Linked DNA regions of Homo sapiens. The protein of the gene in region 1 purifies or fractionates together with the protein of each later gene. This does not show direct contact. Each region holds a gene or a part of one and is shown in the gene's direction. Other genes may lie near its edges. The genes, in order: BFSP1, CCDC92, TRIM9, SASS6, MPHOSPH9, EPS15L1 and SPDL1.

Region 1 (4,201 bases):
TGACAAAATATTTACATTCAGAAACATTCTCATCAAGTGGTATTAATTTCTTTTCTTAAATTTACTTTTAAATTTGTCAAAGTCTAGCTATTAATTATATATATATATTTTAAAAGCTTGTCCTTAAAATCCAACTATTAGTTCCATAATAAAAATTAAAATGGAACATAATGGCACAAAATCCTTTATTATTCTCGAATTGAGGGTTGGCCAATTAATGGCGGATCACTTGAGCCCAGGAGTTTGAGTCCTGCCTGGGCAACATAGCAAGACCCCATCTCATTTTTTATTAAAATTTTTTTGTATTACATTTTATGTTAAAAAAAGAAAAAGAAAAAAGCAATCTTTTTTTCTTTTTCTTTTTTTTTTTTTTTTTGAGACGGAGTCTCACTCTGTTACCCAGGCTGGAGTGCAGTGGGGCGATCTCGGCTCACTGCAGCCTCCGCCTCCCAGGTTCCAGCGATTCTCCTGCCTCAGCCTCCCAGGTAGCTGGGATTACTGGCACACGCCACCACGCCTGGCTAATTTTGGTATTTTTAGTAGAGACGGAGTTTCACCATGTTGGCCAGGCTGGCCTCGAACTCAGGTGATCCGCCCGCCTCGGCCTCCCAAAGTGCTAGGATTACAGGCGTGAACCACCTATTACAGGCCCATGGGTGGGGCTCTATTTGTTTTTTCCATTCAAGAAAGCATGTCAAACTCCATCAGAGCATGGGTGAATTATAAAAACATAACCGTGCATGTCTCCTAAGTTATTGTAGGCTTTTATGCACGGGTATTACTAAGAAATTACTTGCGCCACACCTCACTACTTAATGGAGACATGCCATTTTATTTTGCATCCATGGTTAAGAACCTCTGCTATACAGAAGGGTCCTAAACGTCATGTTATGATTATGAAAAAGAATTGCATGCATAACCGAGCAATTGGAAATAAAAAAGACCAAAAGAAAAAAAAAAGAATTGCTTAAGTAATCAGAAAAAAAAAATGGCATTGTTAAAGAGTTCTACAATTGAGTTTGAATGCAAGAGGAGACAAAGTGACAAGCCCTGGGCTCTTGAGCTAGTCCAAGTTTAAAGAGTTCGCTTGGGGATTCCTTCACAGTCCCCAGTGGAACCAGTGAAAAGAGCGTCATGGCTCCCGTGTCCCCTGACCCTCCATTCAATCAAAAGCAACAGGCCTGAACAATCACGGAACAAAAACCTCATTGCCCAGCGTAACCTTCCAACCCCGGAGCTGTATGGGCCGCTAATCCGCCGCACAAAGCGGGCCGCTGCTCTTTTCTTCTCCCGCGCCCGGGCCCAGCGTGGCGCCCAACTGCTGATCGGCTCTGGAACGTCCCAGCAGCGCGCCGGGGGCCTCCGGTGTTTATTTAGCGGGCTGCGGGCTGCGCCGGGGGCCTCCTGGAGAGCCGGCTCGGCGCCGCCCGCGCGCCCGCGCCAGAGCAGCCATGTACCGGCGCAGCTACGTCTTCCAGACCCGCAAGGAGCAGTACGAGCACGCCGACGAGGCTTCGCGCGCCGCCGAGCCCGAGCGCCCGGCCGACGAGGGCTGGGCTGGGGCAACGAGCCTGGCGGCGCTGCAGGGGCTCGGCGAGCGCGTGGCCGCCCACGTCCAGCGGGCCCGCGCCCTCGAGCAGCGCCATGCCGGGCTCCGGAGGCAGCTGGATGCCTTCCAGCGCCTGGGCGAGCTGGCCGGGCCCGAGGACGCCCTCGCCCGCCAAGTCGAGAGCAACCGCCAGCGCGTCCGGGACCTGGAGGCCGAGCGCGCCCGGCTGGAGCGCCAGGGCACCGAGGCGCAGCGCGCGCTCGACGAGTTCCGAAGCAAGTAAGCGGCGGCCATCGGGGGAAACCGAGGCAGGGCGTGGGCCGTCCCGGCGGCGCGGGGCTGGGAGCACGCTGCTACCATGCAGGGGTGGAGCGCCGTCTCTGGTCCCCTGTCGATCGATGACCTCATCCCTGCACGCAGGTGGCACATTTCCTTAAGCTAAGACTGGCTTCTGTTTTGATGGCACGTCACAGTTTACACGAAGTTGTATCATTTACTTTTCATCTATTTTTAAATTTTGGTATAACTTACATGTTATAAAATGCACAGATTTGAAGTGCATAGTTCAGTGAGTTTTGACAAATGTATATACCCGTGTTACCACGAAAACAAGTGAGATATTTCCACTACCCCTGAAAGTTCCCTCCTCCCCTTTCCCAGTCAGTCCCCTTTGCCCCAGACCGGAGGCACCCATTCTGATTTCTATCACCATAGATTGACTTTGCCTATTCTACAGTTCCACAAAAATAGAATCTTACGGGATGTACTCTATTGTCTGGCTTCTTTTGCTCAGCACATTGGTTTTGAGATGTACCGATGTTATTTAATCCTTACATACTTATCTTTACTGCACCTGTTTTACAGATGAGGCGACTGAGGCTCAGAAAATGTAGGGATTTGGCCAGCAAGGCCCCTCAGCTGGCGAACTGCTGTCCCGGGACTGGAATTTAGGTCCTGGGCATGCTAAGTCTAATTGCCTTCATGGCATAGCAGCTGACACCTGGGAATTATGCTCAGTATGTGTCCTCTAGTGTCTTGATACTCAAAGTGCGGTCCATGGACCAGCAGTATTGGCATCACCCGGGAGTTTGCTAGAAATACAGATTCTTGGGCCCACCCTAGAACTCCAGAATCAGAATCTGCATTTTAACAAGCTCCCCAGGTGATTTTCAGTTTAAAAAGTTAAATGTTGACTAAGCAGCACTGGTCCAGGGCATGGTCTCCCCTCCCACAGATTGAGTAATGTGTTAAAATCACATAGGAGCTGTTAAAAAAAAGATGCAATTTGTCAACATTTTTTCAAGTTATAAATGTGTGTGCTCTTTGACTCAGAAGGCTACTTTGAGGAATGTATTATAGGATGCACTCCAGCAGGTGTGCAATGGCATGCCTCCACCAATACTGCAGCAGGTACACTCCAGCAGGTGTGCAATGGCATGGCTGCAAAGATACTCACTGCAACAGGTACACTCCAGCAGGTGTGCAATGGCATGCCTGCAAAGATACTCACTGCAGCAGGATCTGCAATAAGCCTGGAACCAAATAAATGCCCATTAAAAGGAGACAGGTGCTTCCTCCATGTAATGGAATACTATGCAGTGGAAAAAAGTATGTTATTGTCATGTAGTCTTTTAAAAGGGGAGGAGAGTAGAGTTTTTTTTTTGCTTGCATAAAAAGAATTTCAGGACACACACAAAGACACACACACACAGACACACACACAGGCACATGCCCCAATGACACTGGCTACCTGAGGGAGATAAGTGAGTAGGAACTGAGCAATTGGGAGACAGAGGTGGGAAGGAGACTTTTAACAGAACATCTTTTTATATCTTTAAAAAAATTATTTAACTATGGGCTGGGTGCAGTGGCTCACGCCTGTAATCCCAGCACTTTGGGAGGCCAAGGCAGGCAGAACACTTGAGGTCAGGAGTTCCAGACCAGCCTGGCCAACATTGTGAAACCCTGTGTCTACTTTAAAAAATACAAAAATTAGCTGGGTGTAGTGGCACACGCCTGTAGTTCCAGCTACCCGGGAGGCTGAGGCAGGAGAATCACTTGAATCTGGGAGGCGGAGGCTGCAGTGAGCTGAGATTGCGCCACTGCACTCCAGCCTGGGTGACAGAGTGAGACTCTGTCTCACACACACACACACACACACACACACTTATTTAACCATGTAAGATATTCATCCATTTAAAATTACATAAATGAATTTTAAAATACAGATGTCTAGGCTCTACCCTGGACCTCAAGAGGGGCCCAGAAGCTTAAACATTTTTAATGAGTGCCACTGGTCATTCCAGCCAGATTTGGGAACCCTTGGCATAGGGTAGTCAGAGGATTTCTGTAAACCTGCTCTATGTTTGAGTTCCAGTTTCTCAATCTGAATCTTGGGCAGGTTATTCATTGTTGTGTTCTGAACACATTTATCAAATCACATTTATTGATTCGATTCCTGTCAGCTCTTTTGTCTTGGGGTTTAATCTGTAGAAACAGACTTGGAGCTGGTAGAAGGGACCTGAAAATCCACTTGTTACAGAACTTCATGGGGAAACTGAGCCTGGGAGAGGGCCTGTGGGTGGCAGAACTTGAACCTGGGTTTTCTCACCCTGGGCCTATGCTCTTTCGGGAACACTGTATCTTGAGATA
Region 2 (3,500 bases), on another chromosome or scaffold:
TTACAGCACAGAGACGGTTTCGGGGACAGAAACATCCTTTCTCACTCCTGCCGGAATGCTGCTCACGGCTCCACTGAGGAAAGCCCTGCTTGATGGAAACTCAACTCTGCCATCATCTGCAGCCCAGTGCGACGGCAGTCAAAGGCCAGGGAGAGCTATGCTTTGTTTTATAGAAACATGCCTAGAAATGGTCGCCTTAAGTTATTTAACCCACTCCCTATTGTCGGGTTTTGAGTTTGTTTCTAGTCTTTTCCAACTGCAAACTGCACTGTAGTGACCATTCTCACAGCTACCTCTTTTCACACAAAAGTAATAATTTCCCTTTGGTAGATTTCTAAAAATAAATTGCTAGTTCAGAGAGATGACCAATTCCAAGGCTTCTGATCAGCTCTGCCCAATCACTGCCCGTGGTGAGGTGCCCCCCGAGACTGTACTTGCCGTGTCCTGGGGCCACTGCCCTCTCCTGCCAGTTTTTGTCCCCAACTGAAAGGGCCTCTTGTTTCTCTTTTTCTTGGTCCTTTTTAGGATGTATCATTGTTCATTCCCCTTCGTGAGCTCCGTCGTGTTTTATTTCCTTCTCTGCGTTCTCAGGTTGCCCTCGGAGTGGAGTCTGTGGCTTTCCACCGGAGCAGCGCCCAGGAAGTGTTTTCGTGTGATGAAAGTGTATGTCTGAAGTTCGTTATGAACTCGTCCTAGCTCCAGAGCTAGTGTGCATGCATGTCACTGGTCGTACAGATAATTGATGAGCAATTGGTGTCGTCTGAAGCAGTGACAGCCTGGGTGTGTCAGTGTCTCCAAAACGGTTCCACTGTGGCATCCTACAAATGGGCTGCGTCCTGGGAGCCATTGAGAAGTTGTACCTCCTTTACGGAGGGTTCTCTGGAATAGCAAATTAGGGAAAATGCATTCTGAGGTTCTGTATTTACAATAATAATTTATAAGCAAATAACTCACATTTCATCCTCAGTATTTTTCAGTGCTGTACAAGCGTCTTGAATTACTCTGGTAGCTTTTCCAGAAAGACCCATGACTTCACCACATTTCTCGAGTTACGATGAAGGTAGAGTCTGGGGCCCTGAGTGAGCATCAGATGCTGGAAGCTGGGGCTGGGAGGGGCCAAGCATTGGGGACAGACTCCAGACACCTGCACCACCCCCTGGCCCCATGAGATACGTTCTCAGACCTTCCCAAGAAGGATCTGTGGCTCCTCTCAGTGCTGTGAAGTGCAGGGGGCTTCCCTCTGGAATTCAGCCCATCTCTCCCTCCTACTTTGGCTGGCTCCAGATGCCATTTAGAGGAAATGTTTGGCCCATTTCCCAGGTGCCAGCTTTTCCCATGAGGAAGCTGTCAGTGCTTCCTGGTCAGGGAAATCTTTTGGGCGTGATTTGGTCAGTCACAGTCTGTTGGGGTGAGGTGGTGCGTGGAGAGGACAGGATTTGGAACCAAGGGTCCCTGGATTAGAATCCCTGCTCCATACCTCACTGGCTGTGTGACCCCAGGCTCGCGAATCTGCCTCTCTTGATCTGTTTCCTCATGAGTAAAGGGAAATGACTTTGTACTCTGGAGTGGGCCTCACTCATTCATGTGCCAGGCATCGTGCTAGGTGCTAGGGCACACCCCAAGGCGTTCGGGAAGCAGAGGCTGCCGTCCCTGGCCTGGGGCCTCCCTGCAGTGATGGGAATGTAGCCCTGGTGCCCCCACACCCTGCCCTTCAGGAGCCGTGGTTTCCTTCTGCTCTCTCCTGGGAGGCGCACACCCCTCTGCACCCAGAGCCAAGGAGGGCAGGCAGCCCTGGGACCCTCTTCAGGCACCGCAGCCAGGGTCTGTGTTACCCACAGGTCCTCTGGATGTCAGCATGGCAGCCACAAACCTGGAGAACCAGCTGCACAGCGCACAGAAGAACCTCCTGTTCCTTCAGCGGGAGCATGCCAGCACGCTCAAGGGGCTGCACTCCGAGATCAGGCGGCTGCAGCAGCACTGCACAGGTACATCGGGGAGCAGGCCCGGGCAGGCGGGGGGCGGCTATGGGGCACGGCAGAGCCCAGCGTCAGAATGTGCTAGGCCTGCCCTGCCCCCAGCTCCCATCATCGTTGCAGGAGTCCATCTGAATGCCTTATATCATCCTCATTGCATAATCAAGATGCACTAAGCATAAAGCTGCAAAGCCTTTTCTTGGCATACTGAGGACTTAAGAGATTAAAATACAATGGTTAGAATCTCCAATGTGTTTTGGAACTGATAACCAAGATATAGCCTGTGTGATACATAGAGCCAGCTGCTGGATTGTTTGGTTTGGATGGTTGGGATATGCTGTGGGGGAATGGGGAAGGGAGTTTGGGGGAACAGAGGGTGCCCTCTGACCCCAGGGAGCACAGTGGCCGCAGATGTTTTCTGCTGCTCTCATGCTCACCTCTCCTGCTGCCAAACCCTGCTCTGTCTGGGTAGGACTCGCTGGCTAATCGTGGGAATCGGTTTTGCATTTTCAAAGCTGATGAAGATTTTGAAATGTACAGTAAAAGAATTAATGTGTAACATTTCCCTTTTAGATTTAACATATGAGCTGACAGTCAAAAGTTCGGAACAGACAGGTAAGAACTCCTCCCCAGAAGTAAATGACAGTAGGTTTCCCTTTGTGGTACGTGTTGGTGCCGTTTTCACTAGTCACACACTTAGGAGAAAATGCTCTTGCTGGGAAGAGTTATGCGTGTGGCCTGAGCTCTCTAAGAGAAGATGAGAAGGATGTTTGGATCCCTCCGTGTTGCAAGTGGTTATTAGTGGGCAGGGGGATGAGTGATTTTGTTTTCTTTTGAATGACACATATATTTGGAATGCCTATTATATGTTTTTCTGATTTTCCTACAATGAACATGTGTTCCTTGTGTAATCAGGACATAAAAATAGACGTGAGTTAAACCCAAAAGGAGGAGTAACAGCAGCAGCAGCATTGGGCAGAACCGCCCCCGCTCCTCCGTGTCGCTGCCGCCTAGCATGGGCCTGGCACAGAGCAGCAGCTTGCTAAATGCTGGCGGGCGAGTGGTCACATTACTAGACAGCTCCCTGAGGATCTGGGGCTTTCTCTGGACTACAGCCCCAGAACCCTCCCCAAACCAGAATCCTCCAGGACCTCAGGAAACCCCAAAGGGCAGCTGCCTGCTGGCCGCCAGAGAAGAGACAGAAACCCAGGCCTTCCCAGGGCCCTCTGTGCCTGCTGCAAAGAGCCTGCTCCCTAAAACAGGGTGGGTGTTTGGAAAGTGCTGAATCCATGTTTGTGCAGAGACACCTGTTGGAAACGGGTTTATCACGTCGGGAAGGCAATGGATGGCTCAGCAAGGCTAGTTTACTTTCTGCAGAAAGGGTGCAACTCGCCAGCAGTCTTACCACGAGAGCACACTCAAACAAAGGAGACGAGGACATTTATAATCTTCATAACCTGATGCAATTGCCCTATGACTGTGTCCAGTTTCCATTGACTGGAATGGGACCTCACATTCTAAGCTTGA
Region 3 (3,500 bases), on another chromosome or scaffold:
TGTTGAATTGCCCTACAAAGTATCCTTGGAACTAAAAAATTAATCACTCTGTCAGGAAAAAGAATTTAGAGCCACAAGGTAATTAGGATGGGTAAACCACAACATTATTATTTTTTTTATGACAAGCCTATCCTTGATCTATTAAGACCAAAAGAAACCTTTAAATCTCTGTCAAGCCCCATGTCAATTTGAAATGTTAAATCATTTGTTTTATTGGCAATAGAAATTATGAGTAGACAGACACTGGTGCTGCCTGGGTTGAGATTTAGATATCTACCTGCCACAAAAGAATGTTAAAACCCTTGAAACATGACATAAGTAGGCTAGAAGACCATTTATTCTCTGATCTTTTGCACATTTTTTCCAAAACAGTAAGGACACATAATTTTTGTTCAGTCAATATGAGGATTACTAAACTGCCAAGAAAAAAAATAAGACAGAAGGATGACAGATTTTAACATTCACTTGTCATCTGTTAGATGAACAACAAACATTACTCCCCCACCTTATTTACTTAATAAGGAAGTTAATGTGTTAGCAGCCAGTTTTCTCATATAGTTTATGTTTTAGTTAATGGTACTTCTATCTCCACAAAAGCCCATGGGCCAGAATTTCTATGCCCTGCAAAAATAGGACAGCAAAGAACTATACTAACTAGGTTTCCAAAATTGGGCAGTTAGTTATCAACACAGGTTATTACTAGACCTGAAAAGTTGTCATTCATATTCTATCATATTAGTCATTTCTACTGATAAAGCAAGTCCTGCAGATAAGTATTTCCCACAGGCATAAATCATCATCTTACACACTCAAGATATAATAAAATGGCTGCAGTTTATTTTTAAAGTGGTATTAAAAACATCTGGTTGAAATTCACTAGTTTTCAACTGGCCAGATTAAAATGTTTTTCAGATATTTTTGGTCTTCAAAACTCCATGAAAAATAATAACACATGAATAATAATAATAATAATAATGGTCTTATAAGTCAAATATTTGGTAGCAGTTTTTATTTAGTGCCAGTACTTAACTATATTCCTTTATTCAACGTACTTGTTAAAAGAATTATAACACCAAAAAAGTGATTTTGTAGATACTTTAAAATGGGCAATAGAAACCACTACTATTACTTTGTGATTTTAAGCAGTTCACATTCCTAAATCCTGATATTATCCTTGAATTCCTGGGGTTTCAATAGTCACTGAATCAGGGCTGGGTGCACTGGATTATGCCTGTAATCCCAGCACTTTGGGAGGCCGAGGCGGTCAGATCTCTTGCGGCCAGGATTTAAGACCAGCCTGACCAGCATGTTGAGACTCCATTTCTACTGAAAAATCAAAAATTAGCTGGGCATGGTGGTGCATGCCTTGTAGTTCCAGCTACTTGGGTGGCTGAGGCAGGAGAATTGCTTGAACCTGGGAGGCAGAGGTTGCAGTGAGCCAGGATCTCACCACTGCACTGTAGCCTGGGTGACGATGCAAGACTGTCTCAAAATAAAAAAATGAAGTCACTGAATCAGTAACATATTTGTAACAATTATTCTGTGTTCATGCTACTGAGCAAAGATTTTCTTTTCCTTTCTATTCTAAACACTATTCATTCTTAATCTTGTCTCAAATGTTATTTTTCTCTTACCTTTGTTTTTATAAATGAAAATTTGCAATTTAAACAATATTTTAAAATAAACTGTCAGTTAATATGCCTTCAATTCTAAAATATCCTGGAGAAAAATATCTGCTTAGCTTTATGGTGGCATCTCATTAAATATTTATGTAGCAAAATGTGTTATATAATGCCACTAAAATGATATTCAGTTAACTATATGTCAGCAGTAAACACAATATAGTCTATATATTCCTGTGGTAAATGTAACAGGCAGCATATGTTCATGTTTTTACATTTCTTTTGATTTACTTCTAGTACAATTAGAACATTCTGTGTGCCATGTAAACATTTTTACAGATATTAAGGAAAATGTTACAGAGAAGACAGTTATTCCTCTTTGTACCCAGGCATAATGGAAAGAACTAGATAACAGGAGATCCAGGTTATAGAACCAATGCTGCCACTTACTTGCAGGAAACTTTTTGCAAGTATCATCACCTGTCTGTACTTCCCACCTACAAAGATATAAGGGAGTTAAAATTACAATTGTGAAAGGATTTTGATAAGGTAAATTAAATGTTTATAATTTACTAATTTCAGTTCAACACAACCATAAACATTCATGTCAAACAGAGTCAATGTCTCACCAGTCAACAATTACTGCGTAAAAATCTCATCCCCCAACTTGGGGTACTTTTCTGGATCCTTTTCAGAGCATAGGGTACAGTCCAAAGCTGCTCTGAAAGGTGGCCTAAAAGAGTGAGACTCTTCCTCATGGGTCCAGAGAGAATATTCAGTTGAATTAAGCTCAAGAAATAAGAATACTATACAAAGATTTATATATTAAACAAAAGTATTCTGTTTTTCTCTAAGTAAGCTGAAATAGCTGATAAGGCTCCGTTTTTTTCAGATTCTCCAATAAAGATATTGTTACCAGTTTGAAGTAGCAGAAATTGTTTCTCCTGTATATGCCATGAAAAGATGCTATTAATTGGAGTTTCAGGTCAAATCACAGTTTGCATAAAGTAAGAGACAATTATCACAGCCATCTGTTCTTGTGTAATGAAAATAATGTACAGGGAACATTTGTCCTTACCATCAGTATGATAAATTGCACTTTCCTCACCTAAACAAGTTGGTGGACTTTTCAAAGTGTATATACACATACAACTTAACTTTGGCCTACAGAAGGATAGAAGAACCTATAACAAGATAAATGTTTAAGAATCAAATAGTTATAAATAAATATCATTTGTTTATCAGTTTTATCAGGGATTATTCATTGAAAGGATCAGAAACCCACTTAGGTGATCTCAGAGGATTTCATGGGAAGTGAAATAAAATCAACTCACAAGGAGAATGGAACTATAAAGCTAGAAACTAAGTTCACTCTCAGCATCAGTCAGGTTGGACTATGCTCCAGTAACAAATCTTCGAATCTCAGTGAATTATAATGGCATCTAATTTCTTACTTATTCATGTCAGTGTCCACTGAGAGTCTTTTTTTTTTTTTCTTTGCTTTAGCTTGTTTGTGTTGGTTTCCTGCCACTTGCAACCAAGAAGTCCTGACTTACAAAAGCATATGAATTAACACATGTAAATACTTTAAGATTCTAATTTTTATTCATCCTAGATATTGTCTTTAGAATATTGTGTTTAGAAGGCTGCATTCTGATGCCATAAATACAAATAGAGGGGCGGTTTTTGATTCAATGAAGCAGAAATCATATCATATTCAATGTTATCTACCCATTCACCACTAGGTAGCTTTTATTAGCCTTTTGGTTATTTTCTTCAGTTATTTTTATTGTGAGGTTTTTCACAAAGAGGCCGAAGAGATTTTTTTTTTTTTTTACCAACTCGAAATTACTCCATGTATGTAGTGATGACACTTTT
Region 4 (3,500 bases), on another chromosome or scaffold:
CTCAGCTTCCCAAGTAGCTGGGACTATAGGCGCCCACCACCACGCCCAGCTAATTTTTTGTATTTTTAGTAGAAACAGATTTCACCCTGTTAGCCAGGATGGTCTTGATCTCCTGACCTCATGATCTGCCTGCCTCGGCCTCCCAAAGTGTTGGGATTACAGGCGTGAGCCACCGCACCCAGCCAAGAGCACACTTCTTTATAAGTCTTGACTGGATATTGAAATCTTTCAATGCTAACTAAAGTAATACCAAATATACTGAAAAACTTGAAAACACATAACGTAAAACATTTAGGAGACTTGAAGAAGAGAGAATTCAGGGTTTAGGCTTAAGCCTAAACTGAATTCTATCAGAAAAAGAAAAGAAAGTAAAAAAGAAAAAAGTCCTATTAGCAGGCTTGTCACCTTTAGATTCTACAAGAAACTGGTTATGAGATATAAACTTTCTAGCTCCCAGGACCAGATTTTTTTCTCTTTTGAGACAAGACCTCACTCTGTTGCCGAGGCTGGAGTGCAGTGGTGGGATCATGGCTCATGGCAGCCTTGACCTCCTGGGCTCAGGCAATCCTCCCACCTCGGCCTCTCAAAGTGCCGGGATTATAGCTGTGAGCCACTGTGCCCAGCCCTGCTTTTTTTTTTTTTTTTTTAACCTGAGAAAAAAGGGAGGCTGGGCACGATGGCTCATGCCTGTAATCCCAGCACTTTGGGTGGGAGGCTGAGGTGGGTGGATCACCTGAGGTCAGGAGTTCAAGAGGTCAGCCTGGGCAACGTGGTGAAACCCTGTCTCTACTAAAAATACATAATTCAGTTGGGTGCAATGGTGCATGCCTATAATCCCAGCTACTCGGGAGACTGAGGCAGGGGAACTGCTTGAACCCAGGAGGTGGAGGTTGCCATGAGCCAAGATCGCACCACTGTACTCCAGCCTGGGCAACAGAGTGAGACTCTATCTCAAACAGAAAAAAGGCAGAATAGGAAAAGCAGCTTCTTACATTCAGAGGTGGTTTGGTACTATCTGATAGTTAGGCCTAGGTGCTGCTAGGAGCTTACCTAGCATCCGCACATAGGCCTGGGGCTCTCCTGTTGAACACAACAATTTCATGGAATATTAACATCAGGCAAGGTTACTCTGTGACTCTGTCAATACAAAAACAAGACTGTTTCATAATCATGCCTGAATACAGACAAAAATATGAACATTGCTAAATCACAGATATGGCCCATAAGCATCCTCATATCCTGGCTAACATGAATGGCTGCTGCTGCTTTAATTACAGCTTTGACCTTAATACATTCCTCTTGCTTTATTAGATAGGATTTATTCAGATACCCAGTCATACATTTATCCCCATTTCCCAGTAGCTTCCAATCCACAGCAAAGCACCACTTAAACTTTTTCTTAAATCACCTAACATGTGCCTAAATCCAATAAATAAGTCCCTTTTAATACCCACTTTTGGAGATACCCATGTTTGTTCATGGTGTGCAGTTTCCCTTGTTGCAAGGAGCAATAAATCTAGCTCGTATATCTATACATGGGTTCCTGGTGGTCCTTGGCTACAGGACATTGGCAGAAGGTTTAAAATTCAGATTCCTAATTGAATTTTTAACCTAATCTACTCTGGTAAGTCAGAGTACGGGATGTCTAAAGAAGGGGAAAGATTGCTGTTAAATTGGAGAAGGGTGCAGAAAGAAGTGCCTGGGGCTGAATTACAAACTTAAAAAAGATTTTTTGTCCGGCTTAAAATTTGAATGACTGATGATAGCTGTGTGAAAGGTGTTTTTTTGTGTGCATCCATTAGTGTGCACAAATGCTTCTCAAGATTTCTGTTACAACTGGTCTCAGTATAAAAATAAACTTTTTCATAACGTTGGTTAATGTGTGGTGCCAGTATATTGAAAATTAGTGGCAAAACCAATTACTGTCTCAATTAGTCCATTTAAGAACACTGATCTTGTTTTTATGCAGTCTGACAGAAAATTAGTTTTATTTTATCTCTGATTGGCCTATTGATCTCCAGACTCCCCCATTCCCCCCTTTTTTAGGAGACTTAGAGTGAAACAAGTTGGTTCAGAAGCTTGGCTTTAACTTAGTACAAAGGCAGGCCCAGTAGTTTGTTTTATCCAAGCTTGCACACCTACCTTGAAAAGCCCTCTAGTTCAAAGTTATCCTAGCCCCATGGTAGATAATAAAGCAGAGTTGTGTGGCATGATAAACAAGACTGGCGTCTGAGATAGTGCTCTCTTAATTATTAGTTATTATAACAGATGCTAATGCCACCTGATCAACAAATACTATTTAGAATTAATTTATCATCTTTAATCATCTTTATGTTTTTATTTTTAGGTTGATGGTAGACTGACTTACCCAACCTGTGGGATTGGTTATCCTGTCTCCTCTGCATTTGCATTCCAGAATACCTTCCCTCATTCGATATCTGCCAAAAATACCAGCCACCCTGGTTCAGGAACAAAGGTAGCCAAATTAACTAATACTTGTTCTGGGAAAAAATATAGCAACCTATTAGCATACAAACATTTCACATCTTTTAAAAGTTCATTTATTCTTTGGTCAGTTGTTAAGTAGTAGGTAGTGTATTAGATAAATACATTACTGAATATCTAGTATCTATGTGTACAGGAAATATATGCACTATATATTTCTTGAGTCACTGTAATTTCTAAAATCTTGACATCAGTCTGTTTAAACCTCACTTATTTCTACTCAACCTCTCCTTTTTTTTTTTTTTTTTTTGAGACAGTCTTGCTCGGTTGTCCAGGCTGGAGTGCAGTGGTGTAATCTCAGCTCACTGCAGCCTCTGCCTCCTGGGTTCAGTGATTCTCGTGCCTCAGCCTCCTGAGTAGCTGGGATTACAGGCATGTGCCACTACACCCAGCTAATTTTTTTGCAATTTTAGTAGAGGTGAGGTTTCGCCATGTTGGCCAGGCTGGTCTCGAACTCCTGGCCTCAAGTGATCCGCCTGCCTTGGCCTCCCAAGGTGCTGGGATTGCAGGCCTGAGCCACCACGCCCGGCCAGCCTTTCCGTTTTTATTCATTCTTCTACTTGTGTCTCCTACGCTCTCAGGCCTGGCTAGGATTTCTGACTTCATACTGTTGGAGTCTGAGCTATGATTTGGAGTCCATTGCTAGAATTTAAAGGTCTGGTAGGGCAGGCTTAAATCAAATTCTAAAATTTAGTTCTGACAGCATTATCTCAGATAAGATATGACTAGCAATCCCCCCAACCCTTGATATATTTGTTAAGGCTTTCTTCTACCTACTTCTTTTTCCTCATTTTTATTATTATCTTAGATTTATGTATTTTTTATGTATTATAATTTTGTTTTCACAATAGTTTAATCCACCCAGACCAGTCACTGCTTTTATTTTCATTGCTAACTTCAGATCCAGGTTTATTTTTTCTTAAATAATGAGACAAATAAACATTTATGAAAAAATATTGTATAAAAGATAAAATTGAGGACTTTGAAACTGGTAT
Region 5 (3,500 bases), on another chromosome or scaffold:
GGCCAACATGGTAAAACCCCATCTCTACTAAAAACCCAAAAATTAGCTGGGCGTGGTGGCATGCACTTGTAATCCCAGCTGCTCAGGTGGCTGAGGCAGGAGAATCACTTGAACCCAGGAGGTGGAGATTGCAGTGAGCCAAGATGGTGCCACTGCACTCCAGCCTGGGTGACAGAGCGAGACTCCGCCTCAGCAAAAACAACAACAGAAAAAAGTGGAATTAAAAATTCCACTTTTAAAAAATTCTGGCTGGCTTGAGCTGGGCATCATAGTTTACACCTGTAATCCTTGTACTTTGGGAGGCTGAGGTGAGAGGATCACTTGAGCCCGGGAGGTCACACCATTGCACTCTAGCCTGTGTGACAGAGTGAGACCCTGTCTCAAAAAGGGAAAAAAAAAATGCTGGTTAGTGTTTTGTGAAATTAAATGGATTGTGCCTACTATTTCATATGTAGTAGGTCCTCAGCTATTAATTTCTTCCCCTTTTCCCAGAATTGGTGTTGATTTTTCATTTGTTACACCTCCATTCATTTTCATTTGTTATGCGATCCATTTCCACCATAGTTATGAGCAACTTAATTTGCTGTATTCTTTTTTTTTTTTTTTTTGAGACAGTTTCACTCTGTCGCCAGGTTGGAGTGCAGTGGTGCGATCTTGGCTCACTGCAACCTCTGCCTCCCGGGTTCAAGTGATTATCCTGCCTCAGCCTCCCGAGTAGCTGGGTCTACAGGCACATGCCACCACGCCCAGCTAATTTTTGTATTTTTAGTAGAGACGGGGTTTCACCATGTTGGTCAGGATGGTCTCGATCTCTTGACCTCGTGATTTGCTTGCCTTGGCCTCCCAAGTGCTGGAATTACAGGCATGCACCACTGCGCCCGGCCAATTTGCTGGATTTTCTTTGAGTAAGAAAGGTACATTTAAAAAAAAAATTTTTTTTTTTTTTTTTTTTTGAGACGGAGTCTCAGTCTGTCACTTAGGCTGGAGTGCAGTGGTTCCAGGTTCAAGTGATTCTCCTGCCTCAGCCTCCTGAGTAGCTGGGATTATGGGCATGCGCCACCATGCCTGGCTAATTTTTGTATTTTTAGTAGAGAGGGAGTTTCGTGATGTTGGCCAGGCTGGTGATCCACCCACATCAGCCTCCCAGAGTGCTGGGAATACAGGCGTGAGCCACTGCGCTGGCCCATTTTTTTTAAATTTAAGAGCAAAGAAATAAAACTATTCAGTAAATGTACATCAATGTACCTATTTCACCTCTGTATTTTTTTTTTTCTTTTTTTTTTTTCTTTGAGGCGGAGTCTCGCTCTGTTGCCCAGGCTGGAGTGCAGTGGCGTGATCTCAGCTCACTGCAATCTCTGCCTCCCAGGTTCAAATGATTCTCCCACCTCAACCTTCCAAGTAGCTGGGATTACAGGCACCTGCCATCATGCCCAGCTATGTTTTGTATTTGTGTAGAGACAGGGTTTCACCATGTTGGCCAGGCTGCTCTCGAACTCCTGACCTCAGGTGATCCGCCCGCCTTGGCCTCCCAAAGTGCTGGAATTACAGGCATGAGCTAGTGCACCCGGCCTTCATTTCTGTATTTTGATCAGGTAATGAAAGAGTACCTGGGGAAAAGGAGAGATACTATTAAAGTAACCAAGAGACATAAAAATGAATGACATATACAGACAGACAGATGGGGCAATGTACTTGTAAGCATCAGAGTCTCAGTGACGGAAACCAATGTTCCGTACTTCATGAAAGGAACAAAAAGACACAGGTCAACACAGAGAAATGAAGTATGAGGGGGGTAAGATTGTAGGGGGCAAGGCAGGCTTAGTAGGCTTTGCAATTGCAGGGCTCACAGTGTTATCTGATCTTGAACATCAGTAAGTGGATACTGCATTTTGTTGACTCTACGGTATTGTCAACTTTAAGGTTTCCCATTTCATGTTCTACCAAGAAAAATTTATAAATTAGACTGATACAATGCTTTTTTTTTTTTTTTTTTTTAACCACTTTAGAATTTATATTTTATTCTTATGGAAAGAGTCTTTAGACTTAAACATAGGTTTTATTATGTATCAGTAACTTTTTTTTTTTTTTATTAGAGAGAGGATTTTTGCTGTGTTGCCTAGGCTGGTCTCAAACTCCTGGGCTCAAGTGATTCCCCTGCTTTGGTCTCCCACAGTGCTGGGATTACAGCTGTGAGTCACTGTGCCTGGCCTATTATATAACTTTTTTTTTGAGACGGAGTCTTGCTCTGTTGCCAGGCTGGAGTGCAGTGGTGTGATCTCGGCTCACTGCAACCTCCATCTCCTGGGTTCAAGCGATTCTCCTGCTTCAGCCTCCTGAGTAGCTAGGACTACAGGCATGCACTACCATACCCAGCTAATTTTTTTGTGTTTTTAGTAGAGACGAGGTTCCACCATGTTGGCCAAGATGGTCTCGATCTCCTGACCTTGTGACCCACCTGCCTCAGCCTCCCAAAGTGCTGGGATTACAGGTGTGAGCCACTGTGCCTGGCTTATTATATAACTCTTATGCATACTTTAAAAAGGAAAACATAAGTGAAATAAAAGTGGCTAAAATTCTTTCCTTCTCAGAGTGTTATACTCTTCTCTTCTCATCTCTTCTCTTCTCTTCTCCTCTCCTCTCCTCTCTTCTCTTCTCCTCTTCCTCTCTTTCTCTCTTTCTTTCTTCACGGTCTCACTCTGTTGCCGAGGCTGGAGTATAGCAGCTTCATCATAGATAACTGCAGACTCAACCTCCTGGGCTCAGGCGATCCTCTTGCCTCAGCCTCCTGAGTAGCTGGGACTACAGTCATGTGCAACCACACCTGGCTCATTTTTTTTTTGTTTGTTTGTTTTTAGTAGAGGCAAGGTCTCTCTATGTTGCCCAAGCTGGTCTCTCAAACTCCTGGACTCAAGCAATCCTCCTGCCTCAGCCTCCCAAAGTGCTGGGATTACAAATGTGAACCACTATGCCTGGCCATTTCTCTCTCTTCACCTTGGTGTTAGTTTCTGTGTTTTCCCACGTTATCTTCCTCTAGCCCACCAAGAGCATCAGCGATTCTGCATTTCTTTAAAAAGAATAGAAAGGCCTTTCTGCTTTTTACCTGTCTTAGTAGCATGTAGGACTAGCCCGCTTTGGACTCCCATGTGGAGTATGTTGCTAAACGTGTCTGATTCACCGTTCTCTTAAATATTGGTCCTCAGGAGCTTCATTGTAGTGTGTAGGTTTGTCTTCCAAGCTGCTGATACCTATTTGGCCAATTTTGAGCTCATGAGCAGGGAATGACAGTCTGTCACAACCACAACTTGGCCCAAAGCAATAGCAATTATAAAATGCCATTAATTACAAGAGGCATCCCTACTTTAGAGATGTTAACATGACAAGAACATAAAAGTGGTGAAAAGTGGTACTTTTCTATTCCCATGAGCTTTGAGTAGAATAACCCCAACTATTCCCCCAGACCACCAGGCTGTGGCCATAGCTGGAGTAATGCTACTCTTCAC
Region 6 (3,500 bases), on another chromosome or scaffold:
TCCCAGCTGCATGAAAGCCGCCAGGAGGCCCACAGGAGCCTGGAGCAGTATGACCAGGTGCTCGATGGAGCCCATGGTGCCAGCCTGACCGACCTGGCCAACCTGAGCGAAGGCGTCTCCCTGGCAGAGAGGGGCAGTTTTGGAGCCATGGTAAAGGTTGAATAAACGTATTACAGTATGGGGCTCTGGTCCCCTGGTGTGACAGCAGAACATCCCACCCGCCAGATCTGTTCATGGCCAACGTTGGTTCCAGCCAAGTGCAGGCGGCTGTCTGTTGTTTTTGCTGCCACTTTGCGCGTTCACACCAGGCCTTGCAGCCTGGCACAGGTGGCCATGCTGAATCCTGGCTTCCAGAACAAAGTCCAAGATAGGCCTGGATCCTTTCAGAACCTGTTTTGAATGCCCTCCATCTCTGCGGAAGTATTTACATTGGGCCAACCACCCAAGTTCAGAGGGCTTCTCAAACTTAACCAAAATTGGATCAGTTTCTGCTCATTGTGGAAACCCCACATTCTACTAATCAGGGGGCAGGGGACATCTGAGGGGCATGTGTCTATGTGTATGTGTGTTTCCACAAGGAACACCTTGAAAAGCAAATGTGTTGCTAAAGATGAGGAAGTAATGGCAAGCAGCGCCCCAGGGTGTTGCTCTTTCAAGTAAGAATTGGCCTCTCCTGAAATTTTGGTTATGTTTAAAAACCTCTGCACTTTACTCTGACCTCATGACCCTGGAGTTGTGATCAGGCCTGGGGCAGGGGACTGTCGGCCCCTTACATTTTTGAGAGCTCTTGAGCCCCTGATACCAAGACAGGTGTGACCTTTTCCTTAGGTGGTCACATCCCCCCTGTTCACACCAGAGTCTGCCCCTGCAGCCTCGAACCTGGGGACATGTAGTTTCCCATTTCGTCTTGGTGCTGTTCCGGGAGCGGATGGGCCGGGCCGCGCATGTCTGGATGTTTCCTTGGTGCTCTGCTGCCTCCAGCAGCTCTCTCCGTGCTGCCACCCTCTCTCCCAGGGCTCCTCCCTGGAGCCCTTCTGCTCCTGGGCCTCTGTACGTCATGGATTCCTCTTCCTCCCTGGAATAAGAGTGAGCGCTCGTGCTCTCTAAACACCACACTTGCCTCTTTATGTTCAATGCTTGATGTGTTTCTTTTCTCAGCAGCCAAGTCCTCAGTCCCAAGGATTTATGGGGAAGCACACGCGTCCCCTGGGCTGCTGGGAAGGCACTGCTGGCGAGCTCATCTGTCTCTTGTGTCTGGCCCCCGCTGGGTGCACCGCCTCCCTCTTTCCTCCCATACTCTCTTTTCTCGTGGACTCGTAATGAGGTGGTTTCCATAGCCGCCCCCGGGCCCGTCATCATCAGCTTTATCGTCTAAATTTAAACGATGAGCATTCATCCTTCATGAGTTACGAGAAGCCAGAACTCCTCGCTTTGCTCCCTGGCTGTTCTTGGCGTGTGTGTTTCCGTCTCACAACCCGGCTCCTACTTTCCCCATCTGGCATTGTCCCCTGGCACCGCTTTTGGCTTGTCCTGCTCAGTCTTCGTTCAGGGAACAGCTTCCTCTTAAATGTCCCTTTTGCAGGTTTTTAGAAACCGGTTTTCTTGGATAAAAGTTGGCAGTGAAGTGGCAGTTTGCAAGTGGCCAGTGATTCCCCCAACTCCAAAGACAGATTTTTACCTTTCTGGTTATTTTTGTTCATCTTTTGGGCAGGGCAAAGGTTACCTGAGACACAATTACTTTGGGAATGTAGATTAAGATACGTTACATGGAAACTTGCAACTGGCATCCGAAAGAAAAACTGTTTTTATCCTGTTGTACAAATACAGTTTTTAAAGCATTTTTCTGGCTTGTTTCTATTTCTTAATAAATACTTGGAAGAGAGATTTTTGTTTACTCCTGAACACTTCAAGACTGCTTCAGAGCCGAGAGAGAGGTGTCTTAGTTCTCCCTTGTGGGTCGAAGTTGGGGGTTTTAGGTCCCTGAGAATAGTGTATCCACAGTGGTACATCTGGAACTTCCTATGTTTGGACAGTTCTACTCAGGTTACTAAATTCCATGTGAAGCTCACGCAGTGTGACTTTATCTCAAAAGTCAGGGGTTTTTTTTTTTTTTTGTTTTTGTTTTTTTTTTTTTGAGACGGAGTCTCGCTCTGTCTCCCAGACTGGAGTGCAGTGGCACAATCTCAGCTCACTGCAACCTCTGCCTCCCGGGTCCAAGTGATTCTCCTGCCTCAGCCTCCCGAGTAGCAGAGATTACAGGCACGTGCCACCATGCCCAGCTAATTTTTGTATTTTTAGTAGAGACGAGGTTTCACAGTGTTGCCCAGGCTGGTCTTGAACTCCTGACCTCAGGCAATCTGCCCGCCTCGACCTCCCCAAATGCTGGGATTACAGGCGTGAGCCACCTCACCCGCCAAAGTCAGGGTTCTTAAAGCCATATTTATTTCTTGTCTATCATCTGATTATGAGAATATTGACCTCTTGCTCACCATCCAATCAACTTATGGAGAGAAGCTAATAAATCATCCCAGACTTAGGCCTTACTGAGGACAGATTAAGAAAGGTTGATTGATCTGTCACATCCAGACCCAGTGGCATGCTGGAGCCAGTTTTTATTGACTTTCCAGAACCGATTATTAAATAGGAACTGGCCGGGCACAATGGCTCACACCTGTAATCCCAGTCCTTTGGGAGGCTGAGGTGGGAGGATTGCTTGAGGCCAGCTGCGTGCCACTGCACTCCAGCCTGGGTGACACAGCGAGACTCAATCTCTAAAAAAAAAAAAAAAACCCCAAAAAGCAAAAAACAGGAACTTGTGAGCTAGTTGCTTGGAAACTTGAAATCAACCATGATGAGACTGTTTACACCACAGGAATTGGCAGAAGCTCTAAACCAGGGCTTTTTTCTGAGAGAACTGATTCCCAGCACACCCCTGCTGCCCAGCACTCCTCTAAAGGGCGGGAATGTCACAGAAGCTTCTTCAGCCCCCTTTCAGAGTTGCCGTGTGTATTTCCTAAGAAGGGTACAACTTCACACTGGTTGCTGAACTTGTTCAAGATATTACATCTCTGCCAAGGGCCGTGTCATTCATCCTGGCCCTTGTCTGCTGTACTCGTGTCCCCCAAGTTGGCAGATGGGTCTGTTCTCCTTAGTAGGTGGTCTGCAAGGGGTAGAGTTGATGGTATCTTTGTAACAGGGAAATCTCGTTTCCCACTCTGATTCTGTGCAATGGAATCAAAACCACTATTAGTTACCCTGACCTCCTGAATCCTGCTGGGGTCTCAGGCTTCCCCTTGGAAGGGGAAGGAGTGATTGTGGCTTCAGGCCAATGACTCCTGAGAAAGTGATTGCAGGCCTGACTGTCAGTGCAGGGGGCTTGCAGCCAGCATTCCCAGAACCTCAGTCTCTTCTCTGCCATTGTTCACTGTTACTTGGCAGTCTTCCAAGTGACGACTGAAAACACTGAAAAAAAAAAACCTTATAAATAAATGCCAATTAAA
Region 7 (3,500 bases), on another chromosome or scaffold:
CCCTAGTCTGAGCCATTTCACATGGTCTCTGCTTCCAGCCTTGTTCCCCTTCTAAACTAGTCAACATAGCAGCCAAAATGATTCTTTTAAATTATATCAGATCCTCTACTCCAGACTTTGGAATGACTTCCCATGTCACCCAAAGTAGGAGCCAAAGTCCTTATAATGGCCTGATTTGCCCACTCTCTACTATCTCTTAGCCAAATTTCACTCCCTGGGCTTCTTCCTGCCTTAAGGATTCCCCTCTTGCTGGAACATTCTTCTTCTAAATAGCTGCCTGGCTGATTCTCTCATCTTCTGCCTCCTGGTTACATCACCTGTCCCTTCTTCCCAGATTCTTATTCTGTTCTATTTTTTCTCATCTCCCCTTTCTAATTTATTAATATTCTGTTACTTACTGTTTATCTTCCCCTCCTGGAATGTAAGTTTCATGAGGGAGGAGCTTTTTTTTCGTCCATTTTGTTCCCTAATGAATCTGAACTGCCCAGAATGGAACCTAGTATATAAGGCATTCAAGAAATACTCGTTCAGTGAATGACTACATTGACTTGAGACATGGGGGAACATCTTGCAATGACCTGGTGCCCTTTGAAGGCAAAGGTGAGTTTGAGTCTCGCTTAGGAGGCTGGGACCAAATAGTAAAGGATAATTAGTAAGGTTGATTAAAGTGGAATGTTTCTATATATAATGTTTAAGTCTTTGTTTATAAATCTAGAATGAAAGCAACATCCTTTAATTCTTATGGATATGGTTTCTATTTTTGCATACTTTTATGAATAACTAGAAAAATACTAGTGAATCTCTTTCCAGGAAAGCAGATTTAATATATTCAGGAAGTTAACACTGTTGTGAAAAATTACAGACATGATATTTCTTACTTTACCTTATGAGCCTTATTCACAGCTGCCTTTTTATATTTTATGTGTTTATAGTACCCAGACCTTCCTTTTCTGGTGGTATTATTGTTATTATCATTATTATTTCTCAAGACAGTGTCTTGCTCTGTCAGTGCCATGATCATAACTCACTGAAGCCTCTAACTCCATCAATTTTCCTTCCTTAGCCTCCCAAGTAGCTAGGACTACGGGGGCTTGCCACCATCCCCACCTTATTTCTATTGATTGATTGATTGAGATGGAGTCTTGCTATGTTGTTCAGGCTGGTCTCGAATTCCTGGCCTCAAGTAATCCTCCCCAGTTGCTGGGATTACAAGCATGAGCCACCATACCTGCTACTATGAGGTTTCTTGATTACTTTTTTGTTATTCCCTTAATTTTGATTATATGGATAGTGGTCCAATTATGAGACCAAACTTACCTTAACATATTGGAAGCTTAGCATACAACAACTGAACAGTTTTCTGATGGTGAACTGTTTAGAAGCAAAATTAAATGTATTCTATTCCACTCTTTAATTTTTGATCCCAAATCAGTAACAGAATTGTCAGAACAGTTCTTGCTCTTGGAACAAGAATGCAAATTTGACTACTTATTAGTCAGGAAGAAAATTTTAATGTTTTTATACGACAGTAGTATTGAGTAGATATGTTTCTTCTGTTATTGATATTATTGCATGGAGTTTTTTGTATAAGCTTAAGTAGTTTTATTTCCTCTATTTACAGTTGGCTAAAAAAAAGAAAAGAACATGGAGGCAGATATAATCACAAATCTTCGATGCAGGCTCAAAGAGGCTGAAGAAGAGCGACTAAAAGCTGCACAGTATGGTTTACAACTAGTAGAGAGTCAAAATGAATTACAGAATCAATTGGATAAATGTCGTAATGAAATGATGACCATGACTGAGGTAGGACTCTGGACTCCTCTGTCTGCAAGAGTGTGCTTAGCTATTGAAGATTTGTCCTGTTTAGCAATTAATAGTAGTAGTAGTTTATTCTTTTCTGAAGATTTTAGATCTAGTTCCCGCCCTGCCCCGTCCCTGTTAAAAAAGAATGAACTAAATGAATTCCTGTTATTCTTTCCACCCTAGTGTATTCAGAGTTTGAAAGATCAAGTTATCATTACTCTCTTTGCCACATTTACTACCAGATTTTGCTTTGTCTGCACACTTCCTAGAAGACCTCACTTGTTTTAGACCTCTAAACATCTAAGTGCCCCATGACACTACACCAAGCCCTTAGTTCCCCCATGAAATCTAGGTTTGTGTTCAACTGCCCACTAATAGACTTCTCAAACTTAACACAGACAGAAGAGTGGATTCCCTGTCCGTTAACCAAATATTCTTTTACGATTTTTTTTAGCTTATTTAGTAAATATAATAGCATTCAGTTTCTTGAACACCAAAAATCTTTATATACCAAAGATTTTTGGTATATTTTTGGTTTCTTTATATACCAAAAATCTAGAACTTTTAGTCAATATCTTCCCTTTATTTCTCACATTTCACTCATTAATAAGTTCTAAGAACTAGACTACAAAGCATGTATCTTTGCTACTGGCACTGTAGTCCAGATCACCATCATCACTCCTAGACAAGTATTGTAGCCTTCTGGCCGGGTTGCCTGCTTCCATTGTTGCCATTCATGCCATTCATTCTTCACTCAGCGTCTAAGTGGTCGTGGAATAACACACCAAAGGTCATGCCACAGCCCTGCTAAAAACCATACAACAGCTTCTGATTTTATTTACAACAAAATCTGAGCTCCATCCTTGGGTTTGTAGATCCCTATGTGACCTGACCCCTGCCAAGCTTCTGACCTCACCTCAAACTGCTTTGCCTTGTTCTTGACTATACTGGTCCTCCCTTATGGGCTTTACACCAGCTATTGCCTTTTTTTTTTTTTTGAGTTGTTTACCCCTCACTGCTCTTGGGTTGAGTCCTCAGATTTCAGCTTTCATTTAAATGTCACTTCAGCGGAGAGGTCAGCCCTTACTATGTAATGTAAAGTTGCCCTGATTCACTTTTTTTTTCTTTTTTCTTTTTTTTTTTTGAAACAGGGTCTCACTCTGTCGCCCAGGCTGGAGTGCAGTGGCGCAATCTTGGCTCACTGCATCCTCCACCTCCTGGGTTCAAGAGATTCTCCTACCTCAGCCTTCCGAGTAGCTCGGGGTTACAGATGTGTGCCACCACATCCGGCTAATTTTTGTGTTTTTAGTAGAGATGGGGTTTCACCATGTTGACCAGGCTGGTCTTGAACTCCTGGCTTCACGTAATCTGCCTGCCGAAGTGCTGGGATTACAGGCATGAGCCGTTGTGCCCGGCCCTGATTCCACTCTTAATTATCTGCATTGCTAATTATCTCTAGATTATAAACTCCATGAGAGAGGGAATTTTGTATGCCTTGTTCACTATCCTGAATGCCTGCCACACGATTATTTCTTAAAAGAATGAATGAATAAATCTGGGTAATTTAGCAAATGCTCAGTAACATATTTAAACTTGAATCTCAACATTGTAAATATGGCAGGTAAAAAATATCTGTAGCAGGTAAAAATAACTAGTGATGGCAACCTTTGTGTTTCTACATAGTACTGTTGTAAACC

What was found.
Region 2: the proteins of BFSP1 (region 1) and CCDC92 purify together in Homo sapiens (affinity purification with mass spectrometry; one large-scale study listed by BioGRID and IntAct). This does not show direct contact.
Region 3: the proteins of BFSP1 (region 1) and TRIM9 purify together in Homo sapiens (affinity purification with mass spectrometry; one large-scale study listed by BioGRID and IntAct). This does not show direct contact.
Region 4: the proteins of BFSP1 (region 1) and SASS6 purify together in Homo sapiens (affinity purification with mass spectrometry; one large-scale study listed by BioGRID and IntAct). This does not show direct contact.
Region 5: the proteins of BFSP1 (region 1) and MPHOSPH9 purify together in Homo sapiens (affinity purification with mass spectrometry; one large-scale study listed by BioGRID and IntAct). This does not show direct contact.
Region 6: the proteins of BFSP1 (region 1) and EPS15L1 purify together in Homo sapiens (affinity purification with mass spectrometry; one large-scale study listed by BioGRID and IntAct). This does not show direct contact.
Region 7: the proteins of BFSP1 (region 1) and SPDL1 purify together in Homo sapiens (affinity purification with mass spectrometry; one large-scale study listed by BioGRID and IntAct). This does not show direct contact.

Annotation. Positions count from the first base shown.
Region 1 is NC_000020.11:17,528,580-17,532,780, reverse strand, and holds the start of BFSP1 (filensin), read left to right. Parts: upstream 1-1,401; 5' UTR 1,402-1,451; coding exon 1,452-1,828; intron 1,829-4,201. UniProt on the Homo sapiens protein: Required for the correct formation of lens intermediate filaments as part of a complex composed of BFSP1, BFSP2 and CRYAA. Involved in altering the calcium regulation of MIP water permeability.
Region 2 is NC_000012.12:123,941,832-123,945,331, reverse strand, and holds part of CCDC92 (coiled-coil domain-containing protein 92), read left to right. Parts: intron 1-591; exon of another isoform or gene 592-663; intron 664-967; 5' UTR 968-1,026; coding exon 1,027-1,060; intron 1,061-1,838; coding exon 1,839-1,985; intron 1,986-2,546; coding exon 2,547-2,588; intron 2,589-3,500.
Region 3 is NC_000014.9:51,088,606-51,092,105, reverse strand, and holds part of TRIM9 (E3 ubiquitin-protein ligase TRIM9), read left to right. Parts: intron 1-3,500. UniProt on the Homo sapiens protein: E3 ubiquitin-protein ligase which ubiquitinates itself in cooperation with an E2 enzyme UBE2D2/UBC4 and serves as a targeting signal for proteasomal degradation.
Region 4 is NC_000001.11:100,101,931-100,105,430, reverse strand, and holds part of SASS6 (spindle assembly abnormal protein 6 homolog), read left to right. Parts: intron 1-2,347; coding exon 2,348-2,476; intron 2,477-3,500.
Region 5 is NC_000012.12:123,205,642-123,209,141, reverse strand, and holds part of MPHOSPH9 (M-phase phosphoprotein 9), read left to right. Parts: intron 1-3,500. UniProt on the Homo sapiens protein: Negatively regulates cilia formation by recruiting the CP110-CEP97 complex (a negative regulator of ciliogenesis) at the distal end of the mother centriole in ciliary cells.
Region 6 is NC_000019.10:16,398,971-16,402,470, reverse strand, and holds part of EPS15L1 (epidermal growth factor receptor substrate 15-like 1), read left to right. Parts: coding exon 1-150; coding exon of another isoform or gene 151-165; exon of another isoform or gene 166-1,882; intron 1,883-3,500.
Region 7 is NC_000005.10:169,586,773-169,590,272, forward strand, and holds part of SPDL1 (protein Spindly), read left to right. Parts: intron 1-426; exon of another isoform or gene 427-600; intron 601-1,600; exon of another isoform or gene 1,601-1,621; 5' UTR 1,622-1,644; coding exon 1,645-1,803; intron 1,804-1,826; exon of another isoform or gene 1,827-3,500. UniProt on the Homo sapiens protein: Required for the localization of dynein and dynactin to the mitotic kintochore.